Regions from separate parts of the Homo sapiens genome. Here region 1 is reported to be linked to region 2. The links are microRNA targets in miRTarBase. Many come from high-throughput screens and were not tested one by one. Region 2 holds a microRNA gene; the other region holds the end of a gene's coding sequence.
What was found. The annotated mature microRNA hsa-miR-2054 reads CUGUAAUAUAAAUUUAAUUUAUU and lies in region 2 at 6,930-6,952, opposite strand. An mRNA with a match to its seed (bases 2 to 7 or 8) in the 3' UTR can be bound and repressed. Matches are read on the target gene's strand: a 7mer-m8 pairs with bases 2 to 8, a 7mer-A1 pairs with bases 2 to 7 and ends in A, and an 8mer does both.

Region 1 (10,442 bases), not on the chromosome of region 2:
CTTTCCCACCATCCATACTCTCTTTACGTTTGTCTAACTGTATGTTAGTATCTAATTGTGTGCCTTCTTAGAAGTTCCAGGGGCTGATCTTGAAACAGACCAAGTCTGGAGACCCAGTTGCAAAGTTTCAGGGATGACCTCAAGGCGGCTGATGAACAGCCCGGCCATTATGGAGATGATGTCAGCCCGAGGTCCAGGTGGACTGGGACCTGACGCAGCCACCAAAACAAGACACACAGACATTATGCTCAGCCCAAGTCTTCCATGCCTTCCTTATCAAGTTTTTCTTTTTTAAACTCTTGCCTTCCTGCTAAAAATTGAAGTGGTTAATTTGGACAGGAATTCGGCTGCCTCCCCTCTACTAGTTTGGGTAATAAATTCACTTTCTTTCTATCAGATGTCACTCTTGTTAGTTGGGCTCGGCCAGCAGTGAGCGTCCAGACCTGCTTTGTTGGGTCACACGTGCAGCACCCAGAGGGGTCTGAGTGTGAGCAACAGAGCTCTGTGTTCAGGCTCTGTCCACAATACCCCACACCCTTCCCGCAGAGGGGTCCTTACACCCAGGGTGGTGGTGCTGCCTTTCTTCAGGAGCATGGACTGGGTTAGAAGCTCATGGGCCTGGACGCAGATCCTGAACATTGGGGCAGGGAGTTCCTAGACCCTGTTACCTGTATTAGGGTCTGGGGAGGAAGAGAGCAAGGGCTCAGGTGATCACAGCCCTTGGACCCACTGACTCGCTGTCCTGCGGGCAGGGGAGCAACCAGAGAGGGCAAGGGTCCCTGAGTGCATGGGTCGAAGTGTGGTGCTGGTGTGTCTGGGGTCCTGTGGCTACTTGCAACTCAGCAACACACACACCTGCAGTGCGACATGCCTAGGGCCTGCCACACATTCAAGGTCTGGCTCAATGTAAAGGTACAGGTTCTACCAGCATAATCACTGCTGAGCACAACACATGATCTTGTGGGACCCTATCCACTTAAGACAGGGCCACAACTGTCAGCTGCACACCATCTCCTTAGGGTGTGACAGCAAAGATGACCTACTAAGGAACGTTGTCTGCTGCTGCCTGGTGGTCCCAGGCTCATTGTCCTCTAAGACTCATGCTGGCATCGCTTCTCAATAGCCCTCAGCCCCAGGAGACCCCCGCTCTGTGCCTCCCGATGCCCAGGCAGACTCTGCTGTCATGGCAGAGCTTTCTGTGCTCTCAGCCACGCCCCTCACTTGCCTACGAGGAGCCATGTCTGGCTACAGCTGTGGCCCTAACACCCGTCTATCCATTCAATAAGTAAATAGCGAGCTCCTACCTCTGTTGGGCGTGATTCTAAGCACTTGGAGTGCACCAGGGAACAAAACAGGGCCCCCTGGTCCCATGAAGCTTCCAAGGGAAATTCGAGGCACCAGCTAGCTCTAAGAATTAAGTAGGCAACTTGGTGAGCAAGAAGGTAATAGCAGCCTAAGCTAGTAGCCAGGAAGTTAGCCATGAGATATTTGGTTCCCTATAGAAACTGAGATACCATCTTAACATATGTCTGAGTTTTTTAGAAACCCGGACCCCCACCCAACAAATCACTGGCACGTGTATCTCAGATAAGGGAACTGGGGACTGAAGTCTGGACTTCATTCTTTGTTCTAAGTTTTTTCCTGAGGGGCCTGGAGGGAGCCACACCCATGAGCCTGAGATAATATTCTTTTCTACGGACCCCAAAGTTGGAAACAAAGCTTCTCTTCCTTAACCAATTGCAAATCAGAACATCTTTGAACCTACCTGTAAGCCCCACCCCTCCTTCACAATATCCCACCCTTCAAGGCCAAAACCAATGTGTAATCTCTATGTATTGATTCATGATTATGCCTGTAGCTTCCACTTTCCTGAAATGTACCCCACCTCTAAAAACCCTTACCCACAAGCCATCAGGGGAGTCAGGATTTGAGCATTTGCTTCCTGGTCCTCCCTGCATGGTGCCCTGCAAATAAATGGCTTCCTTTCTACTGCTGCGAAGCCTCAGTGTGGATATCTGGTCTTACTGTGCTGAGCAGGCAGACCCAAGTTGTGTAACAGTATGGGAGTAAGGAAACCTTTTCCAACGACCTGGTCTCAAAAAGTGAACCACCCATGCATCTTCTTTAGGAAGCTTTGGCAGGATGTGCTCCAGCAGAGCAAAGGAATAAAGCACAAAGACCAAGATGCGGGACACAGGGAACAGAAAACTCAACACAGGAAGAGCAAGGATGATGATAGACATCAGAGGGCAGCTGGAGGGTGGAGGATTCCAGGAGGGAGCTTGGCAGGGGGCAAGGGCTACTATGAGTTATCTGATGCTTCTGTTGAAAAACTTTATTGACAGGTATTTGGCAGATGCCTGTGCACTGTATAAAAATCCAATACAAAATAATCAAATAGAAAATAAACAACTAAAAAAAGGCAATTTTTAATAAATGGAGATAAAAGTTAAAAAAAGGAATACAGCATTTGCTTATTTATATATATTTATTTCACTAACATATATATTGTCAATAATAATGTAAAGACTGATGATTGCGCTAATTGTATAGGGAACAGTGAGAAGTAGGGTAGATTGATGATTATATGAGAGCATTCTTATCTATCAAAATGGCAAAGAGATTAGATAATATCTGATTTATTAGCAAAGAAATAGCAATATAAGCACATTAAAAAATATTGGCTAGGTGCAGTGGCTCACGCCTGTAATCCCAGCATTTTGGGGTCCACCCAGCAGGTGGGTGGATCTCTTGAGCCTAGGAGTTTGAGGCTAGCCTGGCAACACAGTGAGACCCCATCTCTTCTAAAAATACAAAAAATTAGCTGAGCGTAGTGGCACACACATGTATTCCCAGCTACTTGAGAGGCTGAGGTGGGAGAATCGCCTGAGCCTGGGAAGTCGAGGTTACAGTGAATCGTGATTGCACCACTGCACTCCAGCCTGGGCAACAGAGTGAGACCCTGTCTCAAAAAACAAAACAAAACAAAAAAAGAAAGGAAGAGAAAGGAAAATGAAATATGGAGGGAAACAGAAGAAACTGCTTAAGAAATGGAAATTTGTTTCCTATAGAGAGCAGGACCCATGGATCAAAAGGCAGGAGAGTGCTGTTTTTCATTATTACTGTAGTTTTTAAAGTATCATTTGACTAATTATATGCATGCATTGTTTTATTAAAAACGAGGTTAAAATTTCAAATGAATGGGATACTAAAAGCTTATACCCTATTTGACCATGTTTCTGATAACCGCAGGTAACAAAAGGACAACTGTGACCAAGGAAAAGGCTGGGGGGTGGCGGGCAGACAGAGGAAGGTGGGGGCAGCAGCAAGGGCTAGCAGAGGGACACTGCCAGGAAGTGAGAACTTGGGGCAACAGGTGGCCCTGAGTATGGGTAGAAATATCTGACCCCACCCAGGGCTGTGACCGAGGTCGGACGGAAGTGCAGGGAAAGACCAGCAGACCGCGGGAACTCGCTCGTAAAGCACTTTGTTTACTTCCTGCTGTCTGGAATTTCAGAGTGAAGTCCAGTGGGACCTCTGGCCTGGCCACCTGTCCGCACAACACACGGGGCCCAGGAGGCTTTCCCTGGCATCATTTGCAAGGAGGCATCATTTGCATTCACCTTCCATTTGTCTGACCTCAGAGGTGGGACCCTCTGCTTCCTTCACATACTTGATAGTGGATGGCCAGGGGCAACTTCCAAAATTCCTGGCCTCCCTGGCTCTTTCAACAGGCAACTGAAGCTCAAATTCAGTTCTTCTCAGGGCTGCAGGGCGAACACTCTGGACACCACAGCCAGAGCTGCACTAAGCGGCTGCACTCACTGAGCCGGCCCTCCGAAGGGTGCTACAATATGGATCTGATCACAGCTCAAATTCCACCAGGTAGTGACCTTGGACAAGTAACCTGACCCCCTCCCAGTCTCTGTGTCATCATCTGAAAGGAAGAGAGAATATCCCACATTTGCAGATCTTTGGTGAGAAACAAATTACGGATCTAAATGCTCAATAATTGTTTGACCCTTCCCCCTGTCTGCTTATACCAAGTAAGCATCCACCATAAAATCCAGGCAGCCAGGTGTATTAGTCTCCTTTTGCCGCTGTAACAAATGACAAGCTTAGTGGCTTAACACCAATTTTTAATCTTACAGGGCAGGAGGTCAGAAGTCTAAAATGACTTTCACTGGGCTAAAATCATGGCCTGTGTTCTTTCTGGAGACTCCAGGGGAGAATCCGTTTCCTTGGCTTTTCCAGCTCTAGAGACTGCCTGCGATCTTTGGCCTGTGGCCCCTTCCGCCCTCTTCAGAGTACATCACTCCAACCTCTGCTTCCCTCCTGCCCAGGACACCTGTGATTACATTAAGCCCACCCAGGTGATCCAAGACAATCTCTCTATCTCAAGATCCTGAACTTAAACACAGCTTAAACTTACCCCAGGTAACACAGTCACACATTCCAGGGATTAGGACATGGACATCCCACCACACTTTGTACGAAGTGCACCTGAACTGAAGTAACTTAGTCAGGTGTAACTGACACTGCCCCTTGCCCTCTGCTCTCCCAAGAATCATTTTAAGGAGACTTTACTAAGGAATCATGGAAAAAAGTTAAAAAACAACTTAAAGGCCAGGCGCGGTGGCTCATGCCTGTAATCCCAGGGCTTTGGGAGGCCCAGGCGGGTGGATCACGAGGTCAGGAGTTTGAGACCAGCCTAGCCAACATGGTGAAACCCCGTCTCTACTAAAAATACAAAAAATTAGCTGGGCATGGTGGCAGGTGCCTGTAATCCCAGCTACTCAGGAGGCTGAGGCAGGAGAATAGCTTGAACTCAGGAGGCAGAGGCTGCAGTGAGCCGAGACCGCGCCATTGCACTCCAGCCTGGGTAACAGAGAGAGACTCCATCTCAAAAACAAACAAAAAACAAAAGAATTTAAGAAGCCAGAATAACAGGAAGTGTGCTGCTAGTTTCCCAGGATTACAATTTACTTGTAAATGTACTGAAGAACTCTGAAGTTCTCCTTGAGATTTGAAATATTTTAATACCTATGTCAGACTCTGACAGCACCCTAACGCCCCCAAGATCAGGGCAAGGGGTGAGGGGTATCTGACACCCAGCTGAAGTCTCAGCCTCTGCCCAGCCTGGGTCTGGAGCCAGAAGAGGTCCCCATAGACTCGGGCTCAGCATGGCCTCCCCAGGAAGGTTGCTTCATCGGTGGTGGTGATGATCAAAGCTGATAGCTTGCTCAGGACTAGTGAAGACACATCAATAATCTGGAAATACTTTCCATATTTGCTCACCAAATTTCCTAGGAACCGGCGAACATTTCTACCTCCTTTTTCTGGCAAAACGAATCCCTGTGAAAATGGCTAATGAGGTACAGTAGAACCCAGTGTCACAATCCTTGCTACTGCTAAATTAGAATTAGCTCAAGGTTAAACTGCATTCTTTGAAGCATAACTCAACACAATAACTGTCTAACATATCGGTTCAGAAAAGACTCTCCACTTTGGTATGAAATAGAAGCAGTATTTTTAAAAATAAAACTCGGTGGCAGTAAGTCAAACTATAATCGTAGGAAAGATACTTTACAGGGAATTCTTTCTGGCTGAAGGCCCTGCCGTCCCCTAGGGCTGCTGGGCAGTCCACTGATAGATCATCACAAGGATTAGATCTGTCCTTTGCCTTCAACAATGAGTCTCTATGTTCCAGGGGCAACCAAACATGAACGATGTTGTGTTCATCAGCCTGTCCTTCTCTGCTCCCTTAAACCCTCCGAACGGTGGTGGATACCACAGCGCGGTACCAAGTCCAGGTGTAATCCAACATTAACTGTCAAGGTCAACTTACAGTGAGAGCTCATTATGAGCCATGGTCTCGACAGGGTGCTGTCATCTAAGCTTGTAACACGCCTGAGGTCGGTGGCATCTGCTATTTGCCCACTTAAGCAGGAAGGGAGGTTACTAAGTCGTCTGAGGTCAGTAGCACACCCAGCAAGTGCTGGGATGCAAACCCAGGGAGGGTGACTTGAGTCCCGGCTCTTAGCTACTGCGGTGTTGCGAGGCTGTAACCTGTAATAGCCTAACATTTCTTGTGACTAATCCAAAAGGAATGAAGAAAGGAAATTCTTCACTCTTTTCTAAATGTATTTTTTGGGGCACTCTGTATGCTGGCCAGAGGGGATCTGAATAAAGCCAAGTAACAGGCAGTTAGGTCCTGGAGTGATGAACAAAGAACAGGGCTGTAGAGTGGATTAAAGGGTCTGTTCCGTCTGGGGTCAGGGAAGGCTTTCTGGGATAGGAGAGACTTCACTGTGACACAACCGGGTGCCCCGGGAGGTTCACAAGGAGGAGAATAACATGGCTATTCTGACTGAATCCAGGATAGGGATCTTTGAGGTGAGGTGCACCTTCAGTGGCATCTCTGCCCTAAGGGAGACTCTGCCCTCAGCTCACCTGCACTGGGCTCCCAGGGCAACCGCCAAGAAAACAATGCTCCCCTCACGCAAAATGCCCACATAGCTTTCAGACCTAAAGTGATGCTACTCTCAGGAAATAAGACAGGAATGTGGCTTTACAAGAGTCCACCTGGTCACCCCATGCGTCTCTGTAAGCCCCTGGACCTTAAAATGGCTTTTCTCTTCACCATTCCTCTGCTCTGCTTCATAGTAGCTATTATATGGTTCTTAGGCACAATTTAAAGCTGCTTTTTAGATTTACTAAACAATTCTTAAGTGGAATGTTAAATTTTTAAAACAATCAGTGTTTTGTGTGGCCATCCCCTAATATATATCTTTTCCTGTCGGTGGCTCTCAGGAACCCACATGAAAGCTTTCTCACCTCACATTTAAATTTGTTTCTGCTGGGCGCAGTGGCTCATGCCTGTAATCTTAACACTTTGGGAGGCCAGAGTGGGAGGATCGCTTGAGCCAGGAGTTCAAGACCAGCTTGGGCAACACAGAGACCCTGTCTCTAAAAAATAAAAAAATTAGCCAGGTGTTGTGGTGCACATCTGAAGTCTCAGCTATTCAGGAGGCTGAGTGGGAAGGATTGCTTAAGCCCAGGAGGTCAAGGCTGCAGTGAGCCATAATCAGGCCACTGCACGCCAGCATGGGCAACAGAGCAAGACCCTTTTTCAATCAATCAATCAATCAATCAATCAATCAATCTGCACCAATGAAACCTTGCCGACACAAGTCATTCCTCTACCCTTAGCACAGTCCCTCCTGTCACAAACAAGGGACCTGATTTCTCAAAATATAATTTATGTCAAAATATCTAAGTAAACCTAACAAATGTAACAAGAATTCTCTCTTAAGCTGGCTGCTATGGCTTGAAAAGTTAAAGGAAAGCTTCGGTTCCCAGATTCTACACAAGTGAATTAAACACTGCCAACAAAACGAAACCCAACTTAAAAGTTATCTTCTGTCCTAAGATATCTCTAAAACTCATAGCTTAATGAAGCAGAATGCCATTTATGTAACTACCAATCCATGAAAAAAATAAAAACTACCTGAAATCATAAAATGTTTAATCTTCTAAAATAACTTGATTTCTAAGGGTCTAATCACACAGACCCTGAAGCTATGACAAATATCCAATATAATCACACTAATACAGGCCTAATGTATTTTAAATAGGTGCATTTAAACCCGAGAAGCAGTCCTTGCATTTTAAATAGGTGCGTGATACTGCTGTTTGCACAAGGAACCTCTGTGTCTCTGCTCTAATTCTCACAGTGAATTCTAATTATGCAGACCATCAAAATTATTCAGACTTACACTAGATAGCATCTTCAATTTTCTACTTGGTAGAGATTTGTTAGGCATATAGAAAAAAATTATTAATTAACTCTGAGAAAGAAGACTTACATTCCTCGTAGAGCCCAGTGATTCCTTCAACTTATAAGTTCCCTAGTGACTTTGATATGATCTCACTATGACTCATAAGCATGAGTCAAATTATTCACTTGGCAGCCTTTTCCTAGCTCCAATCATATTCTAGAGAGGTTTCTTACATTGATGCTTCCCATCAATAAGTTTCTCATCATTTCGCTTTTCAGATGAAACCTAAGGGCACACAGGCAGATTCAAGGAAAAGCCAAAAGAAGCAAAATTGTGAAAACGTATCACACTCCTCACTAGATGTGATGGCAAGGGACAATTTTGCAGACCCGGCCTCTGGTCCACGGCCTGTATCCATCCAGAGGCAGTATGAAGTGACTTATTCATGGTGACTCTGTCTACAGGGCAAGGTAGATCCTTCTAGTGCTCCTGCTTCCCTCATTTCTAAACCAAATGGCTCAAATGGATGTGTTTTAACCTCCTCTTAGATCCTAAGGTCCCTTAGCTTACAGAAGACATAAAGGTATCATGGGATGTAGCAGACAATTAATGTAATAACCTTTTTCTGAGAATAATCTATTTTTCTTTTCTCTAACACGGTGAGGTGGGTGACTGCTGAGGAGCAGTGCTCTAATCTGATGGGGCAGTCCCCAGGGTGGGGGCGTGGGGCTACAGCTTTCCTTCCCCTTCCAAAACCTCTGGGGAAGGGGAGCAGGGGCAACTCCATCAGTTCTAGCCTGACCTCATGGAGGAAGTCTGTTTTTAGAGTATTCTCGAGAGGAACTCAAGGAGATTAAATAAGCAACGAAGAACAAGCCTCTAGAATAGCTCTGGGGAAAAGAGCCGTTCTGTCCTTTTTGCCCTTATTATGAGAAAATGCATCCTTCTTCCCACCTCTGCCACCGTAAAGATATGTTTCTAGACAAGCGCTCTCTTTAAGTCCCTGGAGATGAACAAAGCCTCCATGCCACACCAGGCGGGCTTCCTTCCCATGGGCCTCTGCACAGCCCCAGGCTCTACCAGGCCCCAGTCTCGGGATGCAGAACTCATGGAAAGGTCTTATAAAGACACCAGACACTGGGAGAATCTCTGCCACAATTCCAAATTATGTCCTCTTTTAGAAAGTCCCCACTTTTTAAGAAGTAAAATACTCATTAAATCCCCTAGCTCGGTGGACTGTTGACGATGTCTCCCTATCTAACTGTAGCAGTGTGCCAAGCACAGGGCTCCAGAGATAGGCAGGTGGGGCCGCCTCCTCCGGCCTCACCCACCTCTGCTCCCTCCAGCCCACCCACGCCTCCAGCTGCACAGTTGACTCACCATCCAAACAGCTGCTTCCCCCAGAAAGTAGACCAGGGCTCGACGGCAATTCTTGTGGCAAATTTAATAGAAGAATATGAGACTCACCCTTACTTCCCACACATAAAACACTGCAGGCACTCCAAATCCTTACAGACATATGCACTTCGGAATCAACTCAGGCATGCACAGCATCCCTGTGCTGGAGTTTATTTTAAAAAACAACGCCCCAGTTATCACAGTTTCTTTTTTTGTTCACCATTTTCCATAACAAAAGAAGCTACACAAAATTTGGGGGGAGATACTCTCTTTGGAGACTGACACATTTGCAGAGGGGTCATGAATAATGATTCCAAAGCTCCTATTTAACTTCTGAATCAGGCAAAGAATAAGTGACAATATAAGAATGAATTTTGTTTACAGCAATATCATAATACAGCATTGAATCATTACAGTGCAGTGGTTGTAATTAAGTCCACAATAAAATATTCTTAGCCCGAACACCAGACCAACTAAAATCACCAACTGCTCACGAACCAAAATGATCAGTGCAAGCAGTTGCGGTCTCAATAGTGAAAACCAAAATGGGTAAGGCTTTTCTGGCAGTGAGTCTCTGACATGAACGGCTCCCTCTCTGCTCAGCGAGGACTTGGCCGCCCTCACTTGGAGTCTTGGTCTTTCTTTTCATCTAAAAGGGCGGAGTGGATCCCCAGCTTTTTCAGTTCTTCCACCAAGTCCCCATTCTGGTGCATCTGCAGAAGAATGTCACAGCCCCCTACAAACTCGCCATTGAGGTACACTTGCGGGATGGTGGGCCAGTTGGAATAGTCTTTAATGCCTATGGAGAAAGAACATTTATTTGTTATTTAAATGGTAAAAGCTGAACCATTCATGACTAAATATGTAATTTTGACCCACTAGTAGCAGACAACCCACTGTCCCTCCCTGGCTTCCCCCAATCTTGAGAACACTGTGCTTGCCACTAAGAGCATGAGTTTTTGTGTCAAAGAGACCAGTGGTTAGGCCCTGACTCTTCCAATTACAAACCGTCAGCCCTCAGACAAGTCACCTGACCTCTCATCCTGTTTCCACCCTCATCTCCCAAGGTTTTTTTTTTTGTGAGAATTAGGTAAGCAAGATTCTCAGTAAAATACCTGATACATTGCGGACCTTAGATTAATGGCAGAGGACTGGACTGGGTAATGCAAGTCACATAAGATACATAAGGCCAAAATTCTCCATCTACCAGTCAAGCTTCAAGCGAAACAAAACTTGAAGAAATGTCACAACCAACTTCATTTC
Region 2 (11,198 bases):
TTCCTGCATATAAGTTGGTGAAACTGCACCTTCTCTTGGCTAACCTAATAACTGAATCTACAACATGAGTCTTCCCTTTCATGGAGGTCTATCACTATCTTCTGTGCCACCTTGGCATGAATTAAAGGTCACCCTTTCTGTGGGAGAAAAATCCCTGCATCAGAATATAGCCCGAAGAGGGGAGCTTAGGTTAGATTGACCAGGTGTGTGTCATTGTACAGTAAACATCTTGGTCAAAAAGTTTGTAATAGTCCTTATTCCTTCTCAGAGTTCTGAGGCACAAAGCAGCTATAAAATTGAGAGTCTCAGATCTCATATGCTTCCTATTCCTGGTTAACAACAATATTCCTCCTTAATAATCCATAGTTAGAAGAGCCTTAAGAAGAAAATTATGAAACCAGGCTGGTTGATAGAAATGTTGAAAAAAGAAACAACTGACTTTGCTTTTTTTGTATTCCCTCTGTCCATTACTAGAAAATAAATCCCATAGAATCTTTTATTCTTTTTCCAGTGTAATGGTTCTCAACTTTGGTTGAATACTGGAATTACCTGGAGAAACTTGAAAACTCTTAATCATTGGGCTCTATCCCAGACCAGTGAGATCAGAAACTAAGAGGACAGAACCTAAGCATCTGTATTCTTTAAGAGCTTCAGATAATAGCCATGAGCAAAGCTGAGAACCACTGATGATTTGAATCATTGGGAGGTGGTGTAAGAATAAAACTGTACAATCTTCTTCCTTCCTTGGATCACATCTCACCATAATGAGTTTGTGTGACTCAAGTGATTTATTTATAACATAAAAGGTCTATCTTATTATTTCAAAAAGTTTAACTATAGAATTTAACTCAAGTCGTTTAAGTCCCTCTCTTCAAGGTTATCAAATGGCTAAATGCACAATGTTGGTAACCAATTATAAAATGCATTATAGATAGTATATTTCTTTTTCCTAGAAAGTTCTTTCTGAATAGTAGCAAATGAACATTACCTGGGTATGAAAGAGGAGGTTTCCCTAACATAAATGTTACTGAAGAAAACATTAGGCCTCAATTAGCCTTTTTAACACCATTAACTATAATAATTAGCAAAAGGAAAAAAGACAGTTTTATAACCTACAGTTTCCTTCAAGAAATAGCTATTTAATAATTCATAAACAATCCATCTGCAGAAAATATAATGGTATAGATAGCAATGTCTTTACTAGGCTGCAGCACTATCATAGTGTATCAGCAAACTGCAGTTAACAGAACAAATATTTTTGGCTGTAGAGGGATAGGCTCTCCAAACACAAATTAATCTCCTTAATGGATTTTCCTTACCTTCATGAAAAATGCATTATGGGTTCTTAAGTCACACTCAACACATTGTTAGGGTTTTTTATGATGTGGGGTTGGCACAAAGATGATTTTTCTTTCACACTGTGGGTAAAAAAACAATGAGCTGGGTGGTTTGGAGCCAGACTATTTAATCACTAGGTAAGGACTGATTACCCAGAGAAGTTGCATATTCTTAAGCACCCTCTTTCTGTAAGAGATCCTTAAATTTTGTTGAGAGGTAGAAAAAAGAAATTGCATCGTGGGGCTTAACATTCGTGAAATTTTCAAAATGTCAAAAAACTGTTCCTGTGGGCCTCCTTATTAATTGTTTTGATTTTCTTAAAAGCCGACCAAAGGAAAATTGTCCTGATGCACTTGAAAATGCCTCTGCTCATGCCCAACCTTTTTCCTGTCTAAGTATTCAATGCAGTGAGGGTAACTTGGAATGCAAACAAAAGTTGACTGTGGCCAGAAAGGCACAGCACACTTCCAATATTATGTTTGTTTTGAAGCGTCTTTATATCTAAGCATTATTTTTAAGCATGTGTTTATTTCATAACGTAGATTTTTAATGTGGATGATCATTCATCTAGGACTGAATACCCAATCTAACTATGTCATATGCATTAAGTAGCTACATTAATGCTGCTTCAGGTACATCAAGACAGGCAAACGAACTTCCATTGCTGTGCCCCTTAAGGAATTTAATTAGACACTGCAAGCCATAAGAGTCTGGTAAGAATTTTCAGAGGGCAGGTGTGTGGCATTCATGATACCATCCACAGTTTTATGGTAGAACATGCCTTGCCTTTTTTTTCCAGTTTCCTCAGTTTCAGTTGTCTAAAATTGTTTCGAAACCACTGAGTTTTTATTTTCTTTTAAGCAGAGGTCAACAATCAGCCTTCAGATGGTTCAAATTAGTCAACATAGATCAGAGCTGAACCCATGCCCTAGAAGTGAACGTAACTTCTCCTGTGAGAAATCACCTGGCAGCGGGCTACAAGGTGAGAGAATCATTACAGCTGTGGAGAGGATTGCTCTTTGAAATGGCAGGAATCACACTGAGTTTGCAGCACAGGATCTTTCAGTAAATATTGCTACTACCTAGTGGTGCTCTTTCTCAGTAGATGAATTTAGGACATTGACAACCAGTGATAATCATCTCAGGGATTTACTGTATCCCAGAATTTTAGGCAAAATGTTTTCCAAATAAATCACATGAAGAAAATGTATGACCTAGATATTTAGGATTGTCAACTTGTAACTTATGTGATGATTATATTTCGTCATAAAACCAAGCGCAGAAGAGTTAGAAGGGCATTTCAAAATTTTATGAGAATTTAACTAAATAAAGGAATTGAGACAATCATATTCAAATTCAAGAGGCAATTCAAATTATGGCAGAGAACCGCTGCTGTGACTATTGTGTCTTAGAGTAATTTGTATTAGTTATATAATGTTGGAACTATTTTTTTAATTAACTGTCTGCAGCAACCTATAATTTTAGAGTTTATCATGAACTCTAAACTCATGAAAAATCTAATGTGCACTATGACCTTAATTTTCCAAACTTCACAGTTAGTAACTTTTCTAGTATAGAGGCTAAAAGTCAATGCTCCTTTTTACAGCATACTAAATAAAATATTTTACCTCTCAAACACCAGTTTAATAATTGCCTATTTCATTTTCCAAACACTTTCATTCCCAAATGAATATATTAAAATCTAGAAAACAAATAAGCCTTTTTCTTCAATTTGCTTCACTCTAATCTATTGTTAATAAAACAATAAATCATATCAAAAATTAGGTCATGTAAATCTGTTTCTTAAATTTAAGCAGAACAAACAACCAACATTTCCAGGATTCTTCATTGCATTAGTAAAAAACCGATTCTTAATACAAGAGCCTGAACAAGCTAGAACTGATGTCTGCCTCACTCATGAAGCTCTGCCACTGTTCACTCTTCAATCACAGATCACTGGCCATTACAGTAGTCTGAATAATAGTCCCCAAAGATGTCCATATCCAAATCCCAAGGACCTGTGAGTGTAATACCTTACATGTGAAAGGGATTTTGCAGATGTGATTAAGCATCTTGAGATAGGAAATTATTCTGGATTATCCAGTTGGGCCTAATATAAAAACATGCAACCTTATAAGAGAGATGGAGGAGGATTAGAGTCAGAGAGAGATGTAAACATGGAAGCAGAGATCAGAGAGAAGGTTTGATCTCTGCTGACTTTGAAGATGGAGTAAGGCACCTTGAGCCCAGGATTACAGGTGGTTTCTAGAAGCTGGAAAAGGCAGGGAGATGGATTCTCCCCTAGAGCCTTCAGAAGGAATGCAGGCCTGCTGACACCTTGATTTTAGCTCAGTAAAACAGATTTTGGACTTATGACCTGCAGAAATGTAAAATAATAAAGTTTTGTCATTTTAAGCCCCTAAATTCATGGTAAACAGTTAAAGCAGCAATAGGAAATGTAGGTAGACACACTGCTGTCTTTCATTTGCTGGCATACACAAAACTCCTGCATAACTCAGAGATTTGCTATGTCTCCGCACTCTAAGATGTGTGAAGTAGGGTCTCTATGTCTTCTTCACCCTGGTCTTCTGGATAAATGAGGCACTGAATAAATATTTGTTGAATAAATGAATGATCAGATTAGAATCTGGGAAGGCAAATGTATTTACTTGGGGAATGGTTTAGGAGAGTGACTCTTCTTGTCTTACTTAGGATTGTTAATGTATAAACAAGAAACTAGGAAGTACCCACAATATATGATTCATGCAGGCTTTTTCAGCTTTATCTCTTTTCTCTGTTTTTACACAGAATGCCCTTTACTGAAGGAATATAGAAAGGAAGTGATGAACGCAAAAGGGTATAAATCATTCACCTTTATTAGTAAGTGCTAATTAAGTCATGGATTACTTCAAACATGACCAACCCACCCATACCACGAACTGTGTTACCACCAACTGCTGAACTCTCAGGAGATTGAGTGATTATTATGCTACCATCTATATATTTGATGAGGAAAAATATTTGATATGGTTTGGCTGTGTCCCTACCCAAATCTCATCTTGAATTATAGTTCCCATAATCCCCACATGCCATGGGAGGGACCAGGTGGGAGGTAACTGAATCATGGGGTGGTTACCCTCATGCTGCTCTCTTGATAGTGAGTGAGTTCTCACGTGATCTGATTGTTTTATAAGGGGCTTTTCCCCTTTTGCTCAGCACTTCTCTCTCCTGCTGCCATGTGGAGAAGAACATGTTTGATTCCCCTTCTGCCATGATTGTAAGTTTCCTGAGGCCTTCGCAGCCATGCAGAAGTGTGAGTCAGTTAAACCTCTTTTCTTTATAAATTACCCAATCTTTGGGATTTTTTCATAGCAGTGTGTGAACAGACTAACACAATATTACAAGGAGGAATTATTTAATATTTTTTGGAAGTGTTACAAATTGATCTTAGTGTGTCATTTTTGACCAACTGACCAACTTGTGCCAAGGGTCTTTTCTTATACTTAATTCTACAAGAGTCAATTAGATTAATTACATCTGATCCAATAACATCCTATTGTTCAATTAGTTTCAGCAAACAATATTACTGCCTGTCTTATTACTTTTTTATTCAAAATTGTTCATAGCAACCTTGCTGGCAGGTACTATCAGAAGGTAATGAATTTGAGCTTATCTTATTTTGCAGACCACGTGTTAACATATCATAATATGAGCACCATATAAAAATGCATATGATGTTTTTCTGTGCAGTACATTAGGAAGACCCAAGCTTTTGGATGTTGCTTTTTTCTTAAAAAATAACTTGACATCTAATTTTCATTTGTTGTTACTTTTTAAATTATGATTTTATAGATTCATTTGGTTATTTTTAAAATGTGGGCTATATTTGCTCAAAGAAAATATTTCAATATTTAAATATATTTCAGCAATGTATAAATATAGTGAAGTTACATTATTTTGTTTAATGAGTGATACATATGCTTGGTTTAAATGTGTAGGAATTTTTTTCTTTCACAATAATGTATGAAAAATATTTCATTTCTTGAAAGGATTGCTTTTATATTGACTTGAATTTTTACAAAAATATCTGTTTTTGTCTAGCTTTAAAATCTTTTTATTTCTTAAAGTGAGACTATTTCTTATTAATGAAGTAAAAGTTAGGAATCATTTTCTCTAGATTATTTAGGAAAACTGCTATGAAATGTAAAATTCCAGAACCTCTTTTTACTTGATGTAGTTTTGCAAACAAAACAATTTTACTGAAACTTCCCACCTAAAAACAAAATGCTATGTCTTTAGATATATTCTTTCAAGAAATCACGGGGGACTTATATTGATTTCTTCATAAGGGAAAATTAATATAAATCAAAAATAAACAAGCAACCAAAAAAAACTGAAATCCAGACTTTTCTAACTAAGGAAGGTAATGATAAAGGAAAATGAATAAGTGTTTTCTTTGAATAGCTTAATGAGAGTCGCAGGAAAACAACGACCTATTTTACTATTAAAGTACTTATCTACAAAAAATTGTAATGGAAAAACTTCTGCTGAGCAGGCTAGCAATGGGTATCCCCTAGGACCCAGAACACTTAATGGGTTTTCAGTTCTGTTCTAAATGTTTTTTTTTTTTTTCTTTTTTTGCCTATTCTCAACCAGTGTTGTGCAAAATGTCAGGTTTTCTTCAACTTTCTTTTCTTCCTCCTTAGAAACTCTTGCCCTTTGTCAATTGTTTAGAGGCAGAAAAGATTACATTTCCGTACAAGAAGTCCAGATTAGTTGAAGACACTAGAATTCAAAGCCTGCAAAGATTATACCAAATGTATACGTATGCATTTTTAAACTATCTAGATTGCTCCCAACCTGTAAAATTTCAACAGACTCAAATTATATCTGTGCCTTGGAAATAAAATAGGTGATTAATTAGCCATTAAAGTAGGAGAATCAAAAGATCAGCTGATATCAGGATTAAATTGTCTTTTACCCCAAGAAGTACAATTTTAAAAAAATCTGGTTAGAGACCGATTAATCATGAAGTGACTCTTTTGGAGAAGTTTTGCTCTGAGTCTTTTAGTTTTGATAACTTCATGTCCTTGACTTTTTAAATAACACAATAAACTAGCTAACTTAAATTTTATTTTATTTATTGATATTTATATAAATATATGTCTATATAAATATGTTTATATAAATATATGTTTTATAAATATGTTTATGTAAATATAGCAAATTTATACTTGCTATCAGATTATCTGGTGCATTGCTGATTGCTCTGCCTTTCAGTGAGAGTCACTGGGGAAATTTATATCTCACCAAAAGAAAATTCTGTAATTTTGCTTCTGTTATTGATTATAAAACTGAGCAATATGAGAAACAGGAGAAAACTCAAGTCTACAAGGGACCATCAGTCACTTGGTTTGTCTGAATTAATTGTTATCTTCAGACAACCAGTTTGTGTTGCTCTAGCCTGAGTTTACTTACTAAATTTAGAAGCAGTCTCAAGCATTATTACTGCATATAAAACATAGACAGCTAATTACCCTCTGTTGAATATTTTAATATGCTCCTCTGTAATACATTTTTTAATGATAGAGAATAAATTAAATTTATATTACAGGAAGAAGGAGAATCTACACACTGGTGCTTCTTAATTGTTGCCAAAGGAAACCTAGCAAAAACTCATGGATTCAATGGGAGTATTAATAAGCCAATCAACAGATGGCTAATTGTACCACTGAAAAATGCAAATAAATTAATTCTCACTTGCTCTCATCTATTGGGAGATCAAAGTAGAATTATTAGTTTCCATCTCAATATATTTATATAATTTATACACCAAGATATTTTAGTGAAATAATCTGAAGTAGTAAAAGAGTATAAAGGATTATTCTAACATTTTGATACCACAAAGCATCTCCATTTTGGTATAGTTCTAACACCATCTTATAGTATTAAACTTGAAATTCAGAGCAATTAAATCTTTGTTTTATTAGCTTATTTGTATCAGGCAGGTTACAACGGCATGCTATAGTAGCAAATCATTCCAAGATCTCAATGGCTTAAACAAGGAAGGTTTCTTTGTCACTCATGTTCATGCCCATTGCAGCTCTGCTCCACATCCTCATCATTCCAATACCCCATTGGAAGGGGGAAATCTCTACTAAAGTGGTTCTGATGGCAGAAAGAAAGTAATGACGGAGGATCTAGAGGATGCTCTGAAAATATTTGCTCAGAAGTGTCACATATTACTTCCATACACATTTAACTAGCTAAAGAAATTCACATGGCCAAACTTGATGTCAGTGTGATGAGAAGTAACATTTCCCTACAGGAATAGTTTGTGCAAGAACATATAGCAAAAATCTGTATTATAATGTGGTCAATTCTTTAAGCATTTTTCTAAAACCGATTTATAAAACTTTTCCCCCAGTCCTGAAATAAAGTTCATAAGAAGCTCAGAAAAATTTTGAGTAAATACAGCAAAAAATTAGAAAATATTACAGTAGGTTATGAAAAAATACTGTCATATATTTATGTCCCTTAATCTGGCTTAAAGTCATAAGAAACTGACATTATCATTCTAATACTCTCCATAAGATTGAGGTAAGAATAGGTATTTTTGTTAGACTATTACTCTGCTTACAGCTCTGGTCTAATACTTACATGACTACATTTAGAAGAGTTTAATGAGCATCAGTTCACTTCCTATTCTGATTTTTTTTTACTCAGTCACATTGATAAATACATGGATAAATTATATAAATAAGTGTATTTAATTTTGAATAAATGAATGAAAAGTTTTAGAAATGGGGAAATGGTATAGTTGCCCCAAAATTGTACATAAATAGGTAAGAATAAGAAATGTCTGTATTAAACCCATGTTTTAATCCTAGGATGGACTCCTTTAGAATCATTGGCAATATTTTAAGAGCATCTCACTGTTTACTAAATACCAAAGCAGTGTTAGCACAAAAAGACATTGCTCCAACTATGAAGTCATCCATACAGCCTGCAAATTTGTCACTCAACACAATGAAGACTAGGAACGAAGCTCCAAAATAGAGAACTAGGGCTGGCAACCGGCTATTGCTAAAGTTAGGACGTGGCTCCAGGAGCTCATTCCCAGTGCCTGAAGGAAATGTTTTTGAGTCTTTAAACTCAGAAGAAAAAGAGTAAAATGTACATGTGTTTTAACTGATATGTCATTTGCAACAAAGTTTAATACTTGAGTAAATCTTCGTCTCTGTATCATATCCTATCTCTATCTGCTTTATTTCTTGTTTGAGGATACTAGACTCTAATGATCCATAGTCCCTAGCCAAAAAGAGAGAGAGAGAAATACAGTAATTACACTTCAAAATATATTCTTCCTTTTGTATTTTGGGACTAGAAATCCAAAATAGGAAAATGTAATGTATTACTTTGAAGCAACTTCTAATTTGATGTCTTAAATTATTGTCTCTTCAACTAAGAAATAATTTAAATAGCCTTCAGACAGATTTGGAAGAAAGAATCTACACATGCAAGAATTGAGTGCTGAAAATAAGGCACCTGTGACTTAATTTTAAATCTATTTGTATTTTGCTTTACTGGCTACGTATGTGCTTTCATGTATTCTATATAACTATGCCTCTCAATCTTCGGGAGGATTGAAGGCACAGTAATTCAGAAAACTGAACAACTTACTGTAGTGGCAAAGAACTTTTTAAAGGAAGATGAGAATAACACAGAAATTCAAGGTGAGGGCTTACTCTAACCCTAGCCAAGAGAGCACACCTTCAGCCTCTCGAGTCCACACATAGAACACATACACACACACAACACCCCCCCCACACACACAAAACACACCCACACAGAACACACACAGAACACACACACACAGAACACACACACACAGAACACACACACATAACACACACCCACACAGAACACACACAAAACAGAGACGCTTCAACAGTAGAAGCTCTGACATTTTTTGTTAATGTGTTTTAGATATTGTGTTTCAAATGCCATTTGAACCAAGTGTTCTCTTTTTTCTTTCCTGTCAGTGGGTTTTTCAGGTGTAGTTATAATTATTTTGAAATGTCAAAGGACTAAACTATGCTCAGTAGGAAATAAGAATAAAAGAAATAAACACAATAATTCCATGTGCAATCAAATAATGAAGGAAGAAAGGAGAATTGTAGTATAATATTTTACTATCATTATAAGAATTAACAGAAGATAAATGCTTCTTTGTATCAAAAAAAATTCAGCTTCCACTGATGTTAGTATAAGATGATGACTTTTTAGATTATCAGCTTTGGGCACAAGAAAGTTTAGGATTTTATAACAATATAGCTCTCTAAATAAGCTACACTGTGTAATAAACTGACTTCTTTTTAAGCATTCTATTATTCGCAATGAAAATAGATAAGCAATAATAATATATGCACATTATTCCCCTTCACAGGAGCAATCATTCTCCCAGAGACCATATGATGATTTATAAACCTGGCACATGATAAAGATAATAAATTGACTGCTCTAGAAATCACTGTGTTAACTGAACTGCCTTGTCATTTCTGCCTTAAGTGCAGCTTTTCTAGCTGCAAATGGCAAGGGAAAATAATCAATACAAGAGAAATCTTAGCTTTAAAAAGGTAAAACAATGCAAACGCAATGCCTTTCTGAAAAGAATGTACTTTCAATTAGAAATACTTGAAAATTTGAATTCATTACCTCAAGTCCAGTGACCAATATGTCTCAGGTACTCATATTATACTCTAAATATAAATTCCTGAGCTTGTCCATTTAGAACCTTATATATGAACTGTCTTTGACACTCATATGATATCAGAAAGGTCTTTCAAATTCATTTGCCTCTTCTCTGGAGTAAAGTTCTTATACTGTTATACCAAGGGTATTAAGGGATTAGTCTGGTATCTTTCCAATTCATTTGACTAGAGATCAAATCAGATTCTACTAGTCTGAAAATAGAATCCCTGGCCTCAGGATTAAAATCATTACAGGTGCTTACTAAATGTCTCAAGAAAAATGATCAGCTTCATCCTCCTCATTGCTAATGGAGCTGATTATGTGGAAGGCATATTACGTTTTAAGAACTTCATGTAAATCAGTCCATTTAATCTTCATACCACCCTATGAGGTTGATATTATCATCATCGTTATGCTCATGAAGGAATAGCAAATAGAATGTAATGACATAAGCATATTGATTCAGAATCCACACTCTAAGTAAAGAGAAGTGGAGGATAAGAGCCAGATATAGAAGACATGTTGTGGGAAGACATAGCAAAAATATAACATGGTATACATTGTAGGCAAAAGTTAAAGGACCTAGTAAGCAAGAGAAAACTGTGACAGCTTTAAAGTTATTGATGTACTTAGTAGAAAAGTTGACTGAACTCAGAGACCAGAGTTTAAATTCCAGTTCTACTCTTCATTTGTTACATGACTTTGAATAAGACCCTAAACTTCTTCATATGCAAATCATATAGTAAAATTATTACTTCTTATGGTTCTGAGACTTAAACAAAACCAACTAATTGAGTTAAGTAGAATAGTGTACATAAGATGCTTAGCATGGTCTGAGTATTTTCTCTATACACTGCTTTCTGATGTCTGATATGGTTTGGCTACGTACTCATCCAATTCTCATCTTGAATTGTAGCTCCCATAATTCCCACGTGTTGTGGAAGGGACCCAGTGGGAGGTAATTGAATCATGAGGGCATGTCTTTCCTGTGTTGTTCTCATGATAGTGAATAAGTCTCGCAAGATCTGATGGTTTTATAAAGGGGAGTTCTCCTGCACATGCTCTCTTCTGCCTACCAGAATGTCCCTTTGCCCTTCCCTCGTCTT

Region 1: the mRNA of GLRX5 is a reported target of hsa-miR-2054. Seed matches in the 3' UTR shown: 7mer-A1 at 9,604-9,610.

Annotation. Positions count from the first base shown.
Region 1 is chr14:95,543,483-95,553,924 of GRCh38, reverse strand. It overlaps GLRX5 (glutaredoxin 5), which reads right to left. Exons shown (of 2, transcript NM_016417.3): 2 at 9,211-9,978. The coding sequence ends at 9,800. Among named protein-coding and RNA genes, the nearest start is that of GLRX5, 14 kb to the right of the region's middle. RefSeq lists an enhancer at 5,267-6,142 and a cis regulatory region at 7,816-8,106.
Region 2 is chr4:125,503,013-125,514,210 of GRCh38, reverse strand. It overlaps MIR2054 (microRNA 2054), which reads right to left and starts at 6,952; the gene lies at 6,904-6,952.